Linked DNA regions of Homo sapiens. The protein of the gene in region 2 interacts with the protein of the main gene of each other region in a pairwise test. Each region holds a gene or a part of one and is shown on either strand. Other genes may lie near its edges.

Region 1 (3,876 bases), on a different chromosome or scaffold from region 2:
AAGACTGGAGACAAAATTGGTTTAATGTACTTAACAATTTTATGTACGTATCTTCATTTCCCTATTAGAAGACTTATGGACTGATGAAAAATCACCTGTCTTGGTTGTCATGTTGGTTTTATTTATTCATTAAATATGTATTGAGCATCTACTATATGTTGGTACTGGGGACAGGGGTGAAAAGCCCTGCCTTTGTGGGGCTGGCATTTTAGTGAGGGTGAGAAGGCAGACAGCAGCCATGTAAACAAATGACTAAGGAGGAAATAAAACCTAGAAGGTGACTGAGAGAAAATGAGAGACTACTCAGATGTATTGGCTATGAAAAATTTTCTTCTGATAACTATTGCCAAAGAATCTCTTCAGTTGGAGGGCTGACTTCTTGCTTGCCGTAGGGAAGGGAACAGGGATAAGTGTTTGACTGACTGACTTCTGGGAGTATGCATAGAAAAACCCTTGGGTGGGGCAACATATTACTATTTTTAGGATAAAGGTTTAAAAATACCACTCTCACTTACAGATGTAAATTTTCAAGTCTTTAAAAAATGAGCTATTATGAGAACTGTAATCTAGGAGGATAAAGAACCTGAGATTTGCAACAGATTTCATTTGAAATCTTCCTCGTGCTCTCTTCTCCTCTCTAATATGGGATGCAATAGAGTGAATATTTTACGCAGAGACTCATTTCTGTATTCATTGTTACGTAGCCAAGAAGTATCACTTTTTGGTGTAGTTTATTTAAAGATATCTAGTGCAGTTTGCAAACTAAGCAGACTTATTTGTTGTTATTTTATGTGAATTGTGGCAAATGTAGAGGTCCAGATAGAGGAGAAATAAGAGATTGTATCTTTCCTTCTAGTTAAAGGTTACGATGCCAAAATGGTGACAGTTACTTTATTTTAAAGAACTAATATAATAGTGAATATTAACTATAGTGTTGCTGGGAGTAGTTAACTATTTCAAGCTTATTTTCAACCAATTCATATCATTTTTAATGATATTTTTCAAGTAAATTCAGTAAATAATTCTCAGTTTGTAAATACTTTGTTTCTTATATGCTTTCTGTTTCTTCTTTCCCCATACTTTAAAATTATAATTTTGTTTTTCAAATGCAAAAGCCAAAACAAACAAAAATCTCATGACATATACCAGGTGCAGGTATAAAATGCAAAGGGATCCTTCAACTCTAAAACACCTAAGCCTGTCTGTGAATGAATCTGACAGGGCCCTAACACATGAAAGCTTATAAATAGATTTTAGTTATGTACTGCCTTAATTGTTATTTGCACATAGGATGCTTATCATAGAAAATACTTGACATAAAAAATTAAGTTTGGTTTACTGTTACAGTAGGATTCTTGTAAAACATTTTAAAACATACAGAGGTCACCTCTCACTGGATCCTTAATCTCAGTATGTAATGTAATCTTTCTGTACCATCTGGTGCCTTAATTAGAGCCCAGGAAAAGAAAAGACTTATTCATGTAAGCAGGATTATATTTATGACCTGGGAAATATTTGTTTGTTCATTCCAATTTTTTATTTTAAAGATTTAATACCTAATACAAACTGCTGTGATTGGATATTTATGTTGTTGCACATATTGGTGCAGTCGGAGAGGTGAGGGAGAGAGGGAGGTGAGGGGAGAGGGTGGGCAGACAGGCAGACACTTGTAGAGACCAGTTGCTACATGAACTTACTTGCAAGTTTTTCTGAGGTAGTATAATGTAGGCTAAGCATGAACAACTAAAATCATTTTACAAAGTAAACATCTTAGTTCCTCTACCAAGTTGAAAAGCACAGCAGTCTGAATGTGCTTCCAGCTCTGTATTCAGCAGTTTGACACTATGTAACATCTACCTATGGAATAGACAGAAAATGTTCTCTAACTTATTGGCACTGTATAGATAGAGCTTTGGACTCTTTCTTTTCTATTTTTCCCCATGGAGAGATGCTTAGGTTTTTCAAACCTACTTAGCCATTAATGATTCCATGCCTTGTACATTTTGTGCAATATACAAATGTTTATTTTGGACTTACTTACAATGAGTATAAACCCATACAATAGTGTCATTTTGGTGTTTATAACACGCTTTCCCTTTTTACAGATAGCTGCTGCTCTGTGGTGGTACTTTGTATCTAAAGGAGTTGAGTATTTGGACACAGTGTTTTTTATTCTGAGAAAGAAAAACAACCAAGTTTCTTTCCTTCATGTGTATCATCACTGTACGATGTTTACCTTGTGGTGGATTGGAATTAAGTGGGTTGCAGGAGGACAAGGTGAGCATTTTCAGGAATATACTGCTTGCGTTTAATTGCATATATGTGTTCAGTGGAAAGCAATGAGAACCTAGGACTTTGACTTGATCTACCATTTAACTTGCTTTCATGGTTAATCATTTCCATGTTCATTTCTTTTTTTTTTTTTTTTTTTTTTTTTTTTTTGAGATGGAGTCTCGCTCTGTCACCAGGCTGGAGTGCAGTGGCGCGATCTCGGCTCACTGCAACCTCCACCTCCCGGGTTCCAGCGATTCTCCTGCCTCAGCCTCCTGAGTAGCTGGGACTACAGGCACACACCACCACGCCTAGCTAATTTTTTGTATTTTTAGTAGAGACAGGGTTTCACCATGTTGGCCAGGATGGTCTCGATCTCTTGACCTTGTGATCCGCCTGCCTCGGCCTTCCAAAGTGTTGGGATTACAAGCATGAGCCACCACACCCAGCCATCATTTCATTTTTTAAAAAATTTGAGGCAAGTATAACTTTTGCTTTTTATCTGTGACTACTTTAATACCTAAAGATTTGCCCCAGAGATGAGCATAAACCAAGACTAAAGGTAGAAAACAATATTTTGATGGGGAACGGGTCTAGTAGTTCTGATCCAAAGAATACCAAGACACAGCCCCTCAAATCTGAAGATTTCCATCTTAGCCCATAGCTCACTCCTGCCCTAATACAGATTGAACATCCCTAATCTAAACATCTGAAATCCAAATGCTCCAAAATTCAAAACTTTTTGAGCACCAGCATGATACCACAGGTGGAAAATTACACACCTGACCTCATGTGATGGGTCACAGTCAAAACACAAGTGCAGAACACACTTTATTCAGTATACCTAAGGGAAAAAAGACCCTCTTAGCCCTTTTCCATGTACAGCATAATGTTGATGCCAAACAACCACAGATAATGTCCACACGGGTGACATCTTTGCTTTCTGATGTTCAGAGTACACAAACTTTGTTTAATGCATAAAATTATTTTAAAATTTTATAAAATTACCTTCAGGATACATGTATAAGGTGTATATGAAGTTTTGGATTTAGACCTGAGTCCTATCCCCAAGACACATCATTATGTCTATGCAAATATTCCAAAGTTTAAAAAAATCTGAAATCAGAAACACATCTGGTCCTGAGCATTTTGGATAAGGAATACTCAGCCTGTATAGGTCTTGTTGGTTCTTATTCAAAGGAAATTTTATATAGCCTTGTTAATGTTAAAGAGGATCTAAATTCATAGCTTGGCCAAGATCTGCCTCCTGTCTTTTCAGATGCCTGTAGATTAAGGATGATTCACATTGTTGAGCTTGATGCAGATTATTCCTCTGAGGAGGATCCAGGGTACAAGTCATTATAGTATAGTTCACCTTGCTGCTTTCCATTGTCATATTATGATAATTGGCAGCTTAGGAATTCATACATATATTATTGGGGGCCCAGTTTAAAACAATACAGTTAAAGGCAACTTCTGTAATTTTAAAAGAAAATTAGTAAATCTGAACTGACTTAGATCACTTTATGACAAAAATTAATTATTATTACATCTATACCTTGATTAAATTAATATTCTGAAAAGAAAGAATGTCATTGAGTTTGA
Region 2 (4,474 bases):
GCACATCTGATTGCCTCCTTTGGAAAGGCTAATCAAAAACTCAAAGGAGTGCAACCATTTGTCTCTCACCTATCTGTGACTTGGAAGCCCCCTCCCCCCTTGAGTCTTCCTGCCTTTGCTTCGAGTTGTCCCGCCTTTCCAAACACAACCAATGTACTTCTTACACATATTGACGGATGCCTCATGTCTCCCTAAAATGTATAACACCAAGCTATGCCCCAACGACCTTGGGCACATGTCGTCAGGACTTCCTGAGTCTGTGTCACAGGTGCTGTTCCTCAACCTTGGCAAAATAAACTTCCTGGTTAACTGAGACCTGTCTCAAATTTTCGGGCTCCACACTTCTTTCACTTAATACAATGTTTTCGAGGTTCATCCACGTTGTAGCATGTGTCAGTACTCCATTCTTTTTTATTGCATGGGTATGTCACATTTTATTTACCATTAATCAGTTGGTGGCCATTTGTATTGTTTCCACTCTGTTGCCCAAGCTAGAGTGCAGTGGCTTACTGTACTGACAATCATGGCTTACTGCAGCCTTGACCTCCTGAGTCCAAGCCATTCTTCCTCCTCAGCCTCGCAAGTAGCTTGGATTACAGATGCCCGCCAGCATGCCTGGCTAATTTTTAAGAATGTTTTGAAGAGATGAGGTCTCCCTATGTTGCCCAGGCTGGTCTGGAACTCCCGGGCTCAAGCCATCTTCCCAAAGTGCTGGGAATACAGACATGAGCCACCATGCCCAGTCTACTTTTAGTTTTTTTAAGGTCAGAAAAAAAAACAATTGTACAAACACAAAACAATTTAACAATCTATTATTCCTTTCAACATTCCTTCAGTCACTTTTTTTTTTTTTTTTTTTGAGACAGAGTCTCGCTCTGTTGCCCATGCTGGAGTGCAGTATCCTGGTCATAGCTCATTACAGCCTGGAACTCCTTGGCTCAAGTGAGCCTCCTGCCTCAGCCTCCGGAGTAGCTGGGCTTCCAGGCACGCCCCACCACACCAGACTAAGGCCTTGAGTGATTAAAAAGAAAATCTTTTCCTGTGTAGGCACGATCGCAATATGGATGAACCACAGCCTTTGTTCCCGTCTGCACAAGGCTTCTCCCCCGTCTTTGTGTCTCCGGAGCCTTGCACGTGGTAGGTGCTCGGCATTCGTTGACTGGATCAAGTAGGGCGAGGGAGCGCGGCCCGTTCCGGTTTGAAACTGCTCTGGACGCCGAATTAGTGTTTGGCAGCGCCTGGTGGTCTTCAATCCCAGCCCCTCCGGCCCGCCGCGCCCCCCGGGACCAAAACAAGCGGAGGCGAGCGCGGGCGCGCGGGGCATGCCGGGAGCCCCCCGGTGGGCAGGTGCCTGGGCGGGGCGCGCCGCGGTTGGCGCCTGGGCGGCTGGGCGGCTGCCTAGCACCCGGAAGAGCCGTCAACTTAGCGAGCGCAACAGGCTGCCGCTGAGGAGCTGGAGCTGGTGGGGACTGGGCCGCAATGGACAAGCTGAAGAAGGTGCTGAGCGGGCAGGACACGGAGGACCGGAGCGGCCTGTCCGAGGTGAGTGAGCCCGGGGCCGTCGGCCCCCTCTCGCCGCGCTCCCGCCCTGCGTCCCCTGCCCGGGCCTGGGAAGCCTGCGGGGACTCCCTGGAGTTTCTGGACGGTAGCTCTGCCCCTTCTCCTCCTCTTCTTCTGCAGGGCTCCGCGAAGAGGTCTGGCACTACACGGGGCAGTGGCCGCGGCGTCCTTTTCTGCCCCGCGCCCCTTCAGCCCATCCTCCCTGACAAGGGGGCGGCGCAGGAGGAAATCCCCGGACTGAGCTGCGAGTGGGAGGGTGGGCGACTGGGCTGTCGGCCCCGGCCCCACCGGCCGGGGAATGCGCTTTAGGGCCGGGTAGGGCTGGGGGCCCCGAGGTCCAGGCGGAAGGAGCCTTTGCTGGGTGGGTCGGGGCCCCAGACCCGGACTGGGGTGTTGGGGTGGCGGTCCCTACCTCGCGACGGGGCTGGTGGCCGCGCCCCGAGCTCTGCCTTGGTTTTCTGTCCGGTTTAGGTTGTAGGGTGTGACACTCCCACCCGCCCCTGTACACATTGCCTTGTGATTGGGGGTGAGAAACTGCCCCCATCCCATGAGGACAGGGACCACATCTTGTGTCTCTGTCCACACTGCCCACAACTAGTCTCTAGACACCCAGCGCCTCAGGAGACTGCCTGCGTGTTGGTTTGTTTTATTAGAAAAGCTTTTTTTTCTTTTTTTCTGAGACAGAGTCTCACTCTGTCGCCCAGGCTGGAGTGCAGTGGCGCGATCTTGGCTCACTGCAGCCTCTGCCTCCTGGGTTCAAGCGATTCTCCCACCTCAGCCTCCCAAGTAGCTGGGATTACAGACACCCGCCATCAAACCCGGCTAATTTTTGTATTTTTACTAGAGACGAGGTTTCACCATCTTGGCCGGGCTGGTCTCGAACTCCTGACCTCAAGTGATCCGCCCACCTCTGCCTCCCAAAGTGCTGGGATTACAGGCATGAGCCACCGCGCCCGGCCTATTAGAAAAGTTTTGATCGTGCTGAAACCTGGCCACTAATGTCCTATGTTGTAGAACCACACAGAATGCTGCATTTCTATTTAGGGTGCTTTTAGCTTTTGTTTTCCTTTTTGGATGACAAAATAACGTTTCTCTTCGCTTTTTGGTGTATTCTTTAGCCTCCGTTCCCCATCTGTGAAATGAGGATGTTAAGATGATATGGCCAACTGGAAACTAATCAGTGTTTCTTCTGGTTTCTCAGCAAGTTCTTCTTTCTCAGCAAGCTGCTTTCACCCACGTTTGTGGTTGCTGATTTTATTCGGTTTTGTTTTGTGTGATACTGGGACTTAGCATGACATCTCCGAATGTAAGATTGCTCTCTGAATCTTCACCTTGAGGGAGTAATTCTATGGGATCGAATGTTGGAGTCACTGAAATTTAACTTTTTGATATTTCAAAACAAGTTGGTGGGTTCTTTTTAATTTGTTGCCTTTATTAATTGGTCAAGGCTCAGAGTAATTTCACGGGTTTTTTTTTCTTGATTTCTAGCCTCTATTATGAATCTCAAGTGGAACCTCAGACCGGGCCTAAGAAAGGTCTGACTCATAGGTAGCTGACCCTCGTTATTTAAAGCTTTATTTCCATAGACTGTCAACAAGCCTTTATGAACAATTGGTGCTTAAGAGGCAGACACTTTCTCTCCCTGCAGACTCTTGAGGGGTGGAGTGTTGACAGTGGGATGATGCAGATATTATTGTCTCGAAAATCATCACGAAGCAGTGGGCTGACCCTCAACAGTGGACGACTAGTAAAGTTTGCAAACATAAATGCTGAGCTTGTTTTTAACCTAAAATGGTGAACGTCTGTGTTGGATACTGTGAGAAGGGCTTTAATGTGTTATGCTGAGGCATCTGTTGGATCTAATTTAAAAAGAATAGGTGCTTCGTTCTTGTTTTAAAATACTTTGGTCAGTTGGTCAGTTTCCTCTTTCTGAGTGAGATTTCTGTTTATAACATCATTGTATGGCACTTCCAGAGTCTTGAATTCCTAGGAAATGTTTTGTTGCCGACTAACTTCATCTTGCAGGCTGTTTCAGCTTAGTGTTTACTGATTAGGTCAGAGCCTCCTTTAAAATATTGGTACTGATTTGATTGTCTCATATTTTTCATGGTTTGGGGGCTGGTAGAACTGGAGGATTCTGTGGGGAAATTGCTATTTTGTGTGGTAAGTTGAATTAGGCGCTCTTAAAATCTCTTTAAGAGGTCACTAGAAGAGAGTGCTTTTTAAAACCTTTATTCCTTTAATGCAAACCATAAAGGTGTGACTAGTTCTATTTCTCCTACCTCTCCTAGGTAGTTATAAAATTTGCATGGCAGTATCTAATTATAGCCTCACGTTGAATTTTGTGATTGATACCTCATCTTCATAAATACACCTTAAGTCTTTAGTTTCAATGGACTTCTTTCTGAAAGTATAGGTTTTATGTTTTTTATAAAGGATTCTGGGGACAAGAAAGGTATGAATAGTATCTAATTTTAAAGTGTGGAAATGAAGCAGTATTTCTTTCTTACCTTCTTCTGGTTACCAATCCTGTTTTTCTGAACAATTCTTAGTATTATTCTTGGCAAGAGCCCCTCTTCTCTCCACATCACAGAGTGAAAGGGACCTTTGTGAATAACTGCCAGTCAGACTGCCTGTGAGCGCATTGCCTACAAATTCCATCCAGGTACCATTTTAGCTACTCTAATTTCCAAAAACAATATGCTAGCACAGCTTCCAGCAGTCATGAATTTACAGACATTTTATGAGTTTGTTTTCATAATTTGGCAAAAAGAAGTGTTTTGCTTTCACTGAGTCCAGTTATGAGAAGTGGAACAACAGCTTCCTCCTTCCCTGACCAAGTGTGAATGTAAAAGAACTTGCAACCACATGTAATGGAAAAATACAGTGGTGAAATATGCCCCCCACCCCTTCC

What was found. Proteins that work in one complex are often made in the same cells at the same time.
Region 1: the proteins of SFT2D2 (region 2) and ELOVL4 interact in binary tests that used the Homo sapiens proteins (3 or more experiments, as listed by UniProt).

The regions. Positions count from the first base shown.
Region 1 is NC_000006.12:79,920,026-79,923,901, reverse strand, and holds part of ELOVL4 (very long chain fatty acid elongase 4), read left to right. Parts: intron 1-2,105; coding exon 2,106-2,277; intron 2,278-3,876. UniProt on the Homo sapiens protein: Catalyzes the first and rate-limiting reaction of the four reactions that constitute the long-chain fatty acids elongation cycle.
Region 2 is NC_000001.11:168,224,601-168,229,074, forward strand, and holds the start of SFT2D2 (vesicle transport protein SFT2B), read left to right. Parts: upstream 1-1,403; 5' UTR 1,404-1,479; coding exon 1,480-1,542; intron 1,543-4,474. UniProt on the Homo sapiens protein: May be involved in fusion of retrograde transport vesicles derived from an endocytic compartment with the Golgi complex.